4 linked regions of the Homo sapiens genome follow. The protein of the gene in region 2 purifies or fractionates together with the protein of the main gene of each other region. This does not show direct contact. Each region holds a gene or a part of one and is shown on either strand. Other genes may lie near its edges.

Region 1 (3,500 bases), on a different chromosome or scaffold from region 2:
AGGAGACACCAGCAGCCACCTCCTTACCCGTCAAGGCCAAGGTGTGGTTCCGCCCACATGCTGCAGACACAATCACTTCGTGGCTAAGACCCTCGATGAGTCTAGGGGCTTCTACTCTCTTGGTGTCACCATGTCCCAGCTGCCCCTTCTCATTTCGACCTGCAGATCACATGAGAGAAAGTAGAAAAGAGAGAGGGTGGTCCAGGCGGCACCACCAGGAGAAGGCGAGTACAAACACACTCTCAAATGATGCCCATCTGTCTCTGGAAGGTACCCTCCAAATTCCCAACAGCCAAGATCCAGAGCAAAGAACGCCCCGGCCCTCTGCCCGCTGGAATGGCGCCTGCTGCAGCTCCCCGGACCTCCTTCCCTGGGGCAGCAGCGGGACCACCCGTGCACACCTCCCACGTCTCTGCTACAAAGGGAAATGAGAGGCTCAGTGTGGTAGGGACACCATGCACAGGCGGGCATGCTCGCAGAAACACGCCGTTCCCACTTAGAGTGCCTGCAAGACAACCACCCCGTCCCTACCCTCTGAGATGTATTTTAAGACAGCACCCCATTTTGACACCTGGCTCACCAGAGTTTAATCACTTTGGTGCTCTGGGCATCCACTGAGGACCATTTGGTGTCTGCCCAATATTTCTCTTCCTTTTTCTACCCTGTAAATGGTGCTCACATAACAGTGCCAATCCCACCCCTAGGGATCGCCCCTCAAGGACTCTCAGCCACAGGAACCCTGGTGACAAAGCACAGATCCACCCTCAACACAACACGCCCAGCCCCACCTCCAGGACTGCTGCAGGTGCGACCAAGGCCCTGTATCTGTGAATTCCAGCGGAAGGCAGGCCTGAGGGCCAACCCCTACCCCCAAGTCCTCTGCAGAACCAAATTCAACTCCAAACAGACGTGGAAGTTGGGTGGGCCAAAAGGAGGGCTGGGAGCCCCTACACCGCATCTAGGTTTCAACACAAACTACCAAGTTCCAAAACAAAAATTCAACCGGCCACTCTCGGATCCCTCCCGATAAGAGAAAAACCACACATGTAACCTGACGTGGGGAAACTGACGGAGATCTTACAGTGGTGAGAAGTCAGGGCAATTCTAGGGGGTTTTGCAACCTTCTCCAGCAATGAACTTTTCACCCTTAGGTTGTGATAAAGGCAGACAGCAGAGCCATTAAGATGAGTTCCAGCTGTCCTGGAGAAGGCTTGCAGGAGCAGCCTCTGACTACAGAAGGAATTGCGACGAAGGGAAACCAGCCTCTGACTCGCTCTAATTAAAGAACGGCGGGCTGAAGGGCCAGCACTGGCACTCGAGCAGGAGAGGCAGATACACCAGCTTCCAATGGGAGCTGCCCAAGTTCATGTGAAAGGCATGTGAATACAGAGCAACAAGTGCAAGTCTCAGTGGACTGAGATGCGGCAGGACAGGGTGAGCGGGCCACAGATGGAGACCCCACATGAGCAATGCGTCAGCCACCCTCCCGTGGTACTCTACTCACACCAGACGCCGCCCCCTGCCTTCTAGAGTGGCGAGCAGTGGGCCTGTGACACCTTCCAACCCTGTCCTCACCAACTGCACTGTCTGCTCGGGGATCACACGTCTTGATGGCGGGACATACATTGTCCCTGCCCACAGGGTCAGAACTGAGGGCGCTTTCAGAGCCACCACGCAAGTGAAGCTCAGCGAGAGATCAGAACTGAGGTATTTTAAGTTTGGAACACTGACATAAAAGGCTGTGTTCAGTGTTGGAACACAAAGTAGGAGGGGTGCTCTGGGGGAAGGGACACACATCTATGCCAACCGGGAGAAAACAAAAACTGTGGCAATGTCAGCATGTCATCAAGAGACTATAAAGTATAAATTTGGGCCAGACACACTTTAGCTTTTTTCAACAGAATTACAAAATTAGCCATGTGCAGGGAAGACAACAGATGTTAATATATTTGGACTTTGGTACAGCAGCTCATGAAATCACAAAAAACGGTTCAAACAGCCCAAAATAAAAATGCAGTCATATGGACTAAAAGCTAGCCAGAGGACCAGCGACAAAGGGTGGGGACAAACGCCAATATGCCCCGCTGGAGGCAGAGGCCGGGAGTCACCAAAAGGGCTGGGGATAAAATGAGCCTTAGCCCATACCCTATGATTGGAATGATCTGGAAGAGGACACGGGCAGGAATGGGCCGGCCGGCTGCAGAGGACAGTGCCGTGGACAGAGGCTAACAGAAGAACTGGAACCCATCCCGAGTGCCCAGGTGAGGAAAAACAGAAGGGAAAGCCGAACAACTCCAAAAAAGCAAACTGAAGTATCTGGGGAAATATCCTAAGAAGCAGACAACACGGACAGTGAGCTGCCAAGCCTGCAGACCAGACTTGGGCAGACCTCAGACACGAGGGCCATGGCGGCAGGGACGCAGCATCCTATGACATGAGGCGGGAGGTAGAAAAGCCAGTGGCATTTCAAGTGGCAGCAACAGAGGTCTCATGTCATATCGTGCCTCAAAGAGGAAGGAAACTGTCTGCTGGAAGGACAGCCTGCCTAACACACTCACACACCTCAGTATCAGAAAAGATCAAGCTTCGGGCAGAAGATTCAGGAAAATGTTCCTTGTGTAAACACAAGGAATCAAAGAAGTAGGGGCTGCGTATGGGCAAAAAATGTCAGGGGGGAAGGGGATCTGCATGTAGCGTGTAGACAAGAGACGAGCTGGGAATTAGGAAAAAAGACATGGGCTGTGAACGAAGGAGCCCAGCCTTATAAGACGCGAGTCTCTTTTCCAGGCAAACAGAAGAACGTGCTGTGTGGGGACAGCTGGTGACAGTGGTCCCCAGTGCCCAGCACCCGCACGGTACTCACCCCAGCTCCACAGCTTCCCTTCCGTGGTGATGAGGAGGCTGTGTGCAGCACACGAGCCCGAGACCACTGTCCGCACCCGGACCCCCGCCAGGCACCCATATCTGTGGGGCCCCCACAAATTCTGACCGAGATTGCGGTAAGCAGCTGCAGAGAGAATGAGAATGCAGATCAGACACCTGGGGTGGTGGGGTGACCTCCAAAATGTCACTGGCCACCAAGCAGCCACTTCCCGAGGGTACCAGGGACAGGTGTTCCTCGGGTGCCACCCTGCCTTGGCTGTTGGGAGGCTGCACAAGGATCGGGTTTTCACTTCGAATCTCTGCGATGCCTCTGAAGGCCCAAAAATCAAAATACCCAGAAGCTGGCACAGGCCTGGCGTCACCTGCCACCTTTACACCCATTCGGCCCCAGCCCCCTCTCTGGGTCCCACCTCTCACAGGGCTCAGCCCCACGTGTTCTGCCATTGAGCACGCCCACCCGCAAGTGCCCGGGACCTGGTGCGAGGTCTGTCCAGGAGGCAGGAGTGCTGGCTTTCCACAGCCGTCAGCTGAGGAAGAGGCTGACCCAGGAAACCCCGCTCACCCTGACAGTAACCTACCCCTCCTCCTCACTCCCTGCCGCCTGCCCCTCCTTTCCC
Region 2 (3,500 bases):
GAGGTTAAGCAACTTGCCTGAAGTTACACAGCTAGTGAGTGGCAGAGCCAGGAGTCAAACCCAGGAAGCTGGCTCTGCAGGCCCCACTCTCCTAATAACAGTACCTGCTGAACACAGGATTCAAGAAGACAAGCTGGGAAGGCACTTAGCAAGGGTGCAACGCAGCAAGCACACAGTTCACATTAGCTGTTGCTACGATTTTTAGGACAAACATTTATTTTGCTATTATCCTATCTTCTTCTACCATTCTGCTGACCGCTGTCTCTTCTTTCTCTGGGGTCAGAACTGGGGAGTCAAAGGCCAAAGGATTAGTGAGACAGCCCCACGGAGGACAGGAGTCTCAGAACTTAGCTTTGTTGGCCAGGCACAGTGGCTCACGCCTGTAATCCCAGCACTTTGGGAGGCCGAGGCGGGCGGATCACTTGAGGCCAGGAGTTTGAGACCAGTCTGGCCAACATGGAGAAACCCTGTCTCTACTAAAAATACAAAAATTAGCCAGGTGTGATAGTGCACATCTGTAATCCCAGCTACTCGGGAGGCTGAGGCATGAGAATTGCTTGAGCCTGGGAGGCCAAGGTTGCAGTGAGCTGAGATTGCACCACTACACTCTAGCCTGGGCAACAGAGTGAGACTGTTTAAAAAAAAAAAAAAAAAGAACCTAGCTTTGTCCCCATCCCTTCTCTCGGTGGCTGCCAGGAGCAAGGAGGTGAGGGTGGAGCCCTCGACCACGGAGTCTAGAAGACTGCGAGTGTCCTGGGCAGGGATGGGCATGTGGTTTTTCCAGGCTTTGTCTCACCCCAGGCTTCTACAAACCAGGGCAGGGATTTGGGGCTCCCAATTCTATCCTGAGAAGCTGGGGTGGCTGTAGCTGCTGCGCAAAGACAGCTGGTTGTGGCTGACAAGCAGAGGGGAGGTGCCACCAGGGCAGGTCTCAGCTCTCAGGCACCATTTCCAACCACTGCCAGGTGTGGCCCAGGTGCGAATATGTGTGGGGGTGTGGCTCTCGTCCCTGTGTGCTGGGGTAACACTGGACTGTGTACATGGCACGCCGACTGTGCCTGGGTTTGGCAGGGGAAATGGGGTATATATGCGACAATGCCTGGGTCCTAGTGAGGGAGAGTGTGTGTGTGTGACACTGTCAGCTGGCGTCTTGTTTGGGTGTGACTGTGTATGTGGGTGCATGTGTAATGAGTGTCAAGGGTTAGCTGTGCCTGTGTGTGTTACTGTGTATCTGGGGATGCATGGCAGGGTTTCCAACCTTGGCACTACTGACATTTGGGGCTGGATCATTCTTTGTGGTCGGCGAGGGTTGAGGGGTTCCATTGTAGGGGACTGAGCAGCATCCTGGGTCTCCACTCACTAAATAGCACCCCCTCCACAAGTGTGACAACCAAAAATGATTCCAGGTTGGGCATGGTGGCTCATGGCTCCCAGCACCTTGGGAGGCCGAGGCGGGAGGATCACCTGAGCCCAGGAATTCAAAACCAGCCTGGGCAACAAAGCCAGACTTCATCTTTACTAAAAATTTAAAAATTAGCTGGGTATGGTGGTGCTCGGCTGTAGTCCCAGCTACTTGGGAGGGTGAAGCGGGAGAACTGCTTGAGCCCAGGAATTCAAGACCAGCCTGGGCAACATAACCAGACTCTGTCTCTACAAAAAAATTTAAAAATTAGCCAGGTGTGGTGGCATGCACCTGTATTCCCTGCTACTCAGGAGGCTGAGATGGGTAGATCGTTTGAGCTTGGGAGGTCAGGGCTGCAGTGAGCCGAGATCGCACCACTGTGCTCCAGCCTGGGCTACAGATGACAGTCTGTCTCTAAAAAAAAAAAATGTTTCCAGACATTTCCCAATGGGTGAAATCACTCCTGGTGGGTGACACTGGGTTAGGGAGTGTGTGGGGTGTTTTGTGTGTCTGAGAGCGTGTTATTGCATGCATGTGCATGTACCTGTGTGCTTGGTGGCATGTGCGGGTGTATCGGTGCTCATGTGTGTGTTTTGGGCACTGACATTATGACTGAGTGTGTGTGCTGTGTGTTTCTAGCTGTGCCTGTGGGGCTGCATTTGACGGTGGCAGAGCCTGTGTCTGTGCTGTGTGCTTCATGGCATGTGATCGTGTGACTGCGCGTGTCCCGTGTGTCTGCACCCACATGCACGTCCCTGAGTGTGTAATGCCGCATCGATGTGTTCGGGTGTGGCCGGGTGCCTCAAGGTGTCTGTGAGTGAGGGCAAGATTCTTTGTATGGGGACGCCTGTGTCTGTTTGATTGAGGGAGGTGCAGCATGCCAGTGTGTGTCAGCGTGATTCTTTGTGCCCGCATGTGCCAGTGAGAGTGTGTGACTTTGTGTGAGATGGACCCGGAATAAACCCCCCCCCAACTCCCCAAGATGATTCGACCGAAGCCGATATTTGGACGGAACCACCTGGATAATTTGGAACCCATCCCTAGCTCCTGCCTGCCTTGGACTAAAAGGCCCAGGGGGGTCGGGTGCACCTCCATGCTGTCCTTTCCTCCAGCTTGGCTCACACAGATTCAGGTGGGGACAGACAGATCCCCGCTCTTGCCCGATCTGTGCCAGGAAGGCTGGCACTGAGCTTCAGCTGAGGGGGCAGGGTCCTTGGCGATGGTGGTGGGCACTGCCCCCTGCCCACTGCTGGCCACCACCCCCGGCTCCCCTCAGGGTGGGGCCCAGTGGGGGGAGAGCTCCCCAGTGCAACCCCGGCTTCCGATTGGCTGCAGAGCGCCGCAGTGCCCGCTACCCGCCTCCCCTCCCTGGCTGGCGCAGCCACATCGGTAGTGGTGGCAAACGCAACTTGGAGTTCTGGGCACAGCTGCGCCTCACAGAGGCCTGCCAGCCCCACCAGAAGCCAGACACCCCAGCTCCGTGCCCCCGACCCCTCCCTGCCCGCCCGCCCCGCCGGGCAGCTCAGTCACCCTGCCCATTGCCTCCCTCTGGCTGCCAGGCCCTGTCCACCCTGTTCCCTCACCCGCCAGGCCTGTGCCCCCCTGGCCAAGCCCACTCAGGGGGCCCAGGCCCCTGCACGAGGCCACTCCCGCCCTCAGAGGGGCTCCTCGGGAGGGGGGAGGTGGTGAGGAAGGGGGGGTTGGGGAGCTAGCCCTTCTTCCTTTAGTGAACGCGCCCAGAGCTGGAGCCAAAAATCGAGGAGGAGAGATATTCAGACGGAGCCAAGACGCGTTTGGCAGGAGGAGAGAGAGAGGGAGAGAGGGAGCGGGAGGAGGGGAGGAGGGGAGGAGAGAGGGAGGAAAGAGAGAGAGAGAAAGGGGGAAAGAAGGGGGGACCTCAGTTTCCAAATCCGCGCCCTCAGAGCCTCGGAGGGATGGCGGGTGGCCCAGGGGTGTGGGGCCCAGGGCCTGCCTGGCTGTGGGGGCAGCGGGGATAGTGGGCTCAGGCCCACGGAGACAGCCGGACACCCAGCTGGCCAGGCTAGAACGGACACAGGCAGAAGCCAAGATCAATGTGCGCCGGGCAGACAGAGGGAGG
Region 3 (3,500 bases), about 37 Mb from region 2:
TCAACCCCCGGCGCTTGCCTGACCTGGTCTCCAGCTGCCGCTCCCGTCCGGCCCTCTCGCCACTGGGGGACATCGACTTCTGCCCACCCAACCCAGGACCCGATGGCCCCCGGCGCCGTGGCCGCAAGCCCACGAAGGCGAAACGTGATGGGCCACCCCGGCCACGGGGGAGGCCCCGGATCCGCCCCCTGGAGGTCCCGACCACTGCGGGGCCCGCCTCGGCCTCCACGCCCACCGATGGCGCCAAGAAACCCCGGGGCCGGGGCCGAGGCCGGGGTCGAAAGGCTGAGGAGGCAGGGGGCACCCGGTTGGAGCCCCTGAAGCCACTTAAGGTGAGGGGAAATGGGGTCTTGTAGGGGATAGGGGAGGAGGAGCTGTGTCCGATGTTTGAGTCTTTTTTTTTTTTTTTTGAGACAGAGTCTCGCTCTGTCGTCCAGGCTGGAGTGCAGTGGCACGATCTCGGTTCACTGCAAGCTCCGCCTCCCGGGTTCACGCCATTCTCCTGCCTCAGCCTCCCGAGTAGCTGGGACTACAGTTGCCCGCCACCACGCCCGGCTAGTTTTTTTGTATTTTTAGTAGAGACGGGGTTTCACCGTATTAGTCAGGATGGTCTCGATCTCCTGGCCTCGTGATCCACCCGCCTCGGCCTCCCAAAGTGCTGGGATTACAGACCTGAGCCACCGCGCCCGGCCTCCCGATGTTTTGAGTCTTAAAGGACAGGTTTATGGCCGCACCTTGGCATTTTTGGGGCAGGGGGATAATAAGGTTTACATTTCTAAAATCTGTGAGGAAGTTAGCGTGAGGAATTTCAGGGTCTCACTGACAGAAAGACCTAAGAATTGAAATTCTGAATCTAGGCTGGGCAGTGTGGTTCATGCCTGTAATCCCAGCGCTTTGGGAGACTGAGGCGGGAGGATCTCTTGAACCCAGATGTTCGAGACCAGCCTGGTCAGCGTAGTGAGACCCTGGTCTCTATTAAAAACACAAAAATTTAGCCAGGTGTGGCTGCGTGTACCTACAGTCCCAGCTACTCAAGAGGTTGAGGTGGGAGGATCTCTTGAGCCCAGGAGTTCAAGGCTGCAGGGAGCTATGATTGCATCACTGTGGCCTGGGCCACAGAGTGAGACCCTGTCTCAAGAGATAAAGGAAATTCTGGGTTTAGGGAGAGAGGCAGGAGGTTGGAGCTTACGCTGGTTTGAAACTCCTGACCTCAAGTGATTTGCCTGCCTCAGTCTCCCAAGGTGCTGGGATTACAGGCACGAGCCACCTCACCCGGTCTGCTTGCTTTTAGTTTCTATATCCCAAAGGATGGGCATTCAGGGATCCTACATTCCTGGGTCTCATGGGAAGCGGGTCTAGGGACCTGAACTGGGCTGTAAGTGAAGAGGCTCAGTGAGTCCAAGTTCCTGGTCTTCTGAGGGAGGAACTCCAGTCTTGTCCTCCTAGAATCTAAGACAAGGGGTCTGCAGGTTTGAATTCTATAAATTCACAGGCTGAGCACCTGTAAATTTGGATTTTTGGGGGCTGAGGGAGGATGGGACTGGGGGCCCAGGCTACTGGGCCCTCACGGCCCGCCACTCCCATGTCTAGATCAAGCTGTCTGTGCCCAAGGCTGGCGAGGGTCTGGGAACCTCATCGGGTGATGCCATATCAGGCACTGACCACAACAGCCTGGACTCGAGCCTGACTCGGGAGAAGATCGAGGCCAAGATTAAGGAGGTGGAGGAGAAGCAGCCGGAGATGAAGTCGGGTTTCATGGCCTCCTTCTTGGACTTCCTCAAGTCAGGCAAGCGCCACCCACCACTCTACCAGGCGGGCCTGACGCCTCCGCTCAGCCCTCCCAAGAGTGTGCCACCCTCTGTGCCAGCCCGAGGCCTGCAGCCCCAGCCCCCTGCCACCCCTGCTGTGCCACATCCCCCACCTTCCGGAGCCTTTGGGCTTGGGGGCGCCCTGGAGGCTGCAGAGAGTGAGGGTCTGGGGCTTGGCTGCCCTTCACCCTGCAAGCGGCTTGATGAGGAGCTGAAGCGGAACCTCGAGACGCTGCCCTCCTTCTCCTCGGATGAGGAAGACTCTGTCGCCAAGAACCGAGACCTGCAGGAGAGCATCTCCTCCGCCATCTCTGCCCTCGATGACCCACCCCTTGCTGGGCCAAAAGACACTTCCACCCCAGATGGGCCGCCCTTGGCCCCCGCGGCTGCAGTTCCAGGGCCACCCCCTCTTCCGGGGCTCCCCAGTGCCAACAGCAATGGCACTCCCGGTGAGCTCTGGGCAGGTGGTCTGGGAGTAGAGCTTAAAGGTTATTATGATCACTAGGTAACAGTTGTGCAGGTTACGCACTGTTTAAGAGACACCATTCACATACATGGTGTAAGCTTGCGTGTTTATGAAGGGACTTTCCTGATTACACAAGCATTTTGAGGAAGGTCTATCTTTTTCTAATTCACTCAGAGGTGCTAAGTGGACTAGGAGGGGCCCCAAGGCAGACACTGGAGAATGCAGGGAGACAGGGCAGGTGATAAGTTACAGGGACAGGACAGGGGCTACTCAGGTTCTGAATGGTGGGAGGTGTGGGAACTGAGGAGGGCTCTGAGTCAACTGTGTGTGAAGGTACAGAAAGATGTCTGGGGGCAGAGAAAGACTTGGGGATGGGGGTGGGCGGTGGAAGGGAAGGCTAGGGGCATAGGAAGGGTTTAGGTTGTGCTCTGGTTTTGGACACAGTTTAAGGAGTGTAATGTCAGAAACAGAGGCATTGGGAAATGAGAGGTGGGAGCTTACAGGAGGGCACAGAGGGGAGTGTTCAAAAAAAAAAAAAAACCATGACAGGCCGGGCATGGTGGACCACACCTGTAATCCTAGCACACTTTGGGAGGCTGAGACAGGAGGATCGCTTGAGCCCAGGAGGTTGAGGCTGCAGTGAGCCATGATTGAGCCACTGTACTCCAGCCTGGGTGACAGAGCAAGACCCTGTCTTAAACAAAAAACCCCAAAAACAAAACAAAAAGACCCTATAACGTTCTTTTTTTTTTTTCTTGAGACAGGGTCTCTCTATGTCACCCAGGCTGGAGTGTGGAGTGCAGTGGTGCGATCTTGGCTCACTGCAACCTCTGCCTTCCGCTCACCGCAACCTCTGCCTTCCAGGTTCAAGTGATTCTCCTGCCTCAGCCTCCCGAGTAGCTGGGACTACAGGCGCGCACCACCATGCCCAGCTAATTTTTGTATTTTTAGTAGAGACGGGGTTTCACCATGTTGGCCAGACTGGTCTCGAACTCCTGACCTCAAGTGATCCACCCACCTCAGCCTCCCAAAGTGCTGGGATTACAGGCATGAGCCACCATGCCTGCCCTCTGTGAGGTTCTTAAAAAGCCTGAAGAAGGGAGCTGGCAGACAGGGGAGAGGTTAGCAGTCTGCATACTGGTGAGCAGGCCAAGGAAAGGACAAAGATGGTCCTGGAGGGAGGAGGATGAGGCCTTGGAGGAAGAGGAGGTGAGGAAGTAGAGTTA
Region 4 (3,500 bases), on a different chromosome or scaffold from region 2:
CGCAGAGGCCGTGGCTCTGCTGCAAAAGGAGATGGGGGAAATCTAAGTAGCGACCTACGGCATTGAGGCCAGGGAGGTCCATGGGAGGGAGGACTGCCTTGAAGGAGGATCACCCGCCAGCCCCCAGAACAAAGCTCGCATTAATCATCCAAAGACATTCAATTTCGGTTAACATCCTCATAAAACACTGCATTTTCTTGGTGCAAATTGATGCTGTTCAAAACATCTCCCTGCTCTGTTTGAGTCTAAATTTCAGGGTGTTTCAAACATGTCTGATGAAATGACCTCTCAATAGCTCTGTTGATGTGGCACATTGATCCCCTGGTCTTAAACAGAAAAGGAACTTTCTTTTTTGTTTTTTTATTTGAGGCAGGTTCTCACTCTGTTGCCCAGACTGGAGTGCAGTGGCTCAATCATGGCTCACTGCAGCCTCCACCTCCTGGGCTCAAGCCATCCTCCTGCCTTAGCCTCTCAAGTAGCTGGGACCACAGGTACACGCCACCACGCCCAGCTAACCTTTTGATTTTTTTGTAGATCAAAAGATTACAAAATATATGTTGCCCAGGCTGGTCTTGAACTCCTGGACTCAAGCGATCCATCCACCTCAGCCTCCCAAACTGCTGGAATTATAGGCGTGAGCTACTGTGCCCGGCTGGGATTTTTTGAAATTATGAATGTGACTGACATTTTATCTTTTTACGGAGGGTGGGGTAGAAAGGGTGCTTAAATAAAACTTTTGTGTATTTTACTCAAGCCAGGCCTGTTTTACTCATAATGCTAAACAAATCACTAATGGACCGTGAACAATGTAGGGAAGGTGGCCATGGGACACGCCCTCTTCTGCGGGGTGGGAAGAGGGGAGGTGTCATCTGTGATGTGTTCTCCCTACAGAACCAGCTTTGCATGAGGATCGAGCCCAGTCAACGTTGCTGCTATGGGGCTGGAGGGGACTTAAGGGCTCCTCCCAAAAGTGAGACCAGCACCCAAGGCCAATTGGACCCGCGGCCACTAAGCATACGGAGACGCTATACATCATGTAATGCAATTCCCTCTGATACGATCTCTAGTATTGAAATACTATAGGGTTTCCTAAGTATGGAGTGCTGAGTGCGTTTCAAAGGCCAGATCTCCCAAATCTAACAGCCTTAACTCATGCCGGGCCACCCTTGAGCTCTGGACGTGGCAGAAGCAAAGAGAACTTTACCTGATGTGATGCACAAATGTTTCATCACGCACACAGACACACGCACGCATGCACACACACATGTGCAACTCTGTGACGGGCTCGCACGCTGGCGCCACCCAACGCCAGTCTCTCACCTCTTTGTCTGCCTTGGATGCTACGGAGGGCCAGGATGTTCTGCTCATCGGAGAGGAACTGTTTCATCTTGTGAAATGGCTCCTTGCCACGAACAGTCAGTTTATTCCATGGCTTGGGCCGGGCCAGAATCTCGCTCACGGACCCTTGAGACAGTCCCAACACATAATGTCCGAAAATACGTTGTCCGATATTGTGCTTAATCAGCTGCTCTTTGACCTGCCGGGCGATTTCTGCAGTGTCCATCTCCTCGCCCTCGGAGACGCTCCCAGCACTTTCTGACTGGCTGGGGGATGGGGCCATGCCATTGACATCTGGGCTTTGTTGTAATGGACTTTGGGAAGATATGGAGTTTGTGCTGTATGGACCTGTTGAAAAAATCATGCTTGTGCTTCCGGCTTCCTGCATAGCCTTGGAGTAGAAGGACTGCATTAGCTGCCGCTGGAGAAGAGAGTTTAGTGCAAATTTTCCTGTAGAAGCCAGGGGTAGGCTGGGGCTTGCCAGGGATGAGCTGAAAAAGTCTTGACTTAACCCCGCTGGTGAGAACTGGTGTGTACCATTAGTATTGGAAGCCTGCTCCCCCGGGTTGCGGGGCAACTGAGAAGGAGGGGGGGCCGGCAAAGATCCCGGGCGCCGACTTTCAGGCTGGTCTTTCCCTTTCCTCCTGGCTGACCCTACAAGGAAGGGCAAACAGAATGCATTATGGGGGATTCCAAAGGGGGAAAAAAAAACCAAGACCAAAATGCAAAAGTTTGCCCCCGCAAAAGGGAAAACAAAAAAAAGTGCAGGTTTTTTTTACAAGGGCCAATGAGGTGGGTTGGTTTGTTTTCCGATTAAATTTGTAAGTCAGCCAAACGAGGCTTCCCAAAACAAGCAACATGCATTCATGTTTGCGCCTTTCTTGTACGTTGCAGCCTGGAGAGTCCCCTTGACATAGACTCAAACTCCTAGCGTGACAAGGAGCTGGTGACACACACAGGGAAGAGTTGACGGGTCGCGGGCCTCTTACTGGGCCCGCTGGCCCCGGCCGGAGGAGCAGCAAACACTGACATTTTAGGACCAATGGATTCGCTCGCACCTCTTGCTCTGAGGCGATGCACCGTACCGAGCCCCCTCGATGTGGAGGCGCGCGCCCGTTTTGAGAATGCAATACCATTAGAGCCCGAGACACCTGTACGCGTTTTACCAGCTGCCCAAACCAGAAGCACAGTCAAGTGACGCCACCATTTGGGGGATGAGCCAAGAAAGGCTAAGGATGGGGGACGCGTCCCCAGGGGAAACCTGACCAAGGAAGAAAAACCTCTACTGGACCCGGCAGGCCCGGGGCTGTCCCTGAAAACACCACCAGAGCGAGGCTGGGTTCACACTGCCCCTGGCCTCTGTGCAGCACAACCAGACACAGATCAGAAAGGCCGACGTCCTCCGAGCTGTCCCTCCCGGGGATTCCAGCCGCACTGCCCCTAACTGACCTCCGCAGAGCCTGTGCGGCTGGCCCGTCTCGACATCCAGCTTTAAGCAGGGCGGGGAAGGGAAGGGAGGAGCGGTGAGGAGGAGGGCACCCAACACGCGTTAGTCAAAGGTTCTCGTCAACCGGCGCTTCTCTGGCCATGCATCTGTCCAGACTCACGATTCACCTTCCTCGTCCTCGACCGACCCCTGGAAGCGAACCAACCACCGCACACGCGCGAAGCCCGGCCAACCTACCGCTCAGGTCGCTGTTGGAGATGCGCAGCGCGGCGTTCTCGGACTGCAGCGAGCGGTTCTTCTCCAGCAACAGCACCTCCAGGGGCTTGGCCGCATCCTAGAAGGGGCAGAGCGGGGGTCTCACTGCGGGGCCGGCCACTCACCCGCTCCCGGGGCCACCAGGCCTGGAGCCCTGCCTCCCTCCATCTGTCCGCGTTCCCACCCAGCTCTCGATCTGATTAGGAAGTGGGCTGCGGACAGCTGATTTCCCCCCAAGTCGTTTAACACACGTGGAAAACAAGTTCCCTTTAGAAAGAATGGATTCTAGTTGAAGTCATTTTCCTTCTTAGACTTCCACAGCTCCTAAAAAAATTAATTATTCTCTCATCTGTTCTCAAACTCAAGCGACCTGAGCCCGTGCCTCATTTGGCCATAAGACTGGCTGCCAAGCCACAAACGTCTGTCCGAACGTTACTGTAAAGGGAACTTTTCTTTTTTT

What was found.
Region 1: the proteins of NFIX (region 2) and RCC2 purify together in Homo sapiens (affinity purification with mass spectrometry, with the first as the bait; one large-scale study listed by BioGRID). This does not show direct contact.
Region 3: the proteins of NFIX (region 2) and PRR12 purify together in Homo sapiens (affinity purification with mass spectrometry, with the first as the bait; one large-scale study listed by BioGRID). This does not show direct contact.
Region 4: the proteins of NFIX (region 2) and CUX1 purify together in Homo sapiens (affinity purification with mass spectrometry, with the first as the bait; one large-scale study listed by BioGRID). This does not show direct contact.

Annotation. Positions count from the first base shown.
Region 1 is NC_000001.11:17,422,678-17,426,177, forward strand, and holds part of RCC2 (protein RCC2), read right to left. Parts: intron 3,008-3,500; coding exon 2,864-3,007; intron 160-2,863; coding exon 28-159; intron 1-27. UniProt on the Homo sapiens protein: Multifunctional protein that may affect its functions by regulating the activity of small GTPases, such as RAC1 and RALA. Required for normal progress through the cell cycle, both during interphase and during mitosis.
Region 2 is NC_000019.10:13,001,975-13,005,474, reverse strand, and holds part of NFIX (nuclear factor 1 X-type), read right to left. Parts: intron 1-3,500.
Region 3 is NC_000019.10:49,597,682-49,601,181, forward strand, and holds part of PRR12 (proline-rich protein 12), read left to right. Parts: coding exon 1-332; intron 333-1,590; coding exon 1,591-2,257; intron 2,258-3,500.
Region 4 is NC_000007.14:102,195,126-102,198,625, reverse strand, and holds part of CUX1 (Homeobox protein cut-like 1), read right to left. Parts: intron 3,120-3,500; coding exon 3,023-3,119; intron 1,993-3,022; coding exon 1,321-1,992; intron 1-1,320. UniProt on the Homo sapiens protein: May be involved in intra-Golgi retrograde transport.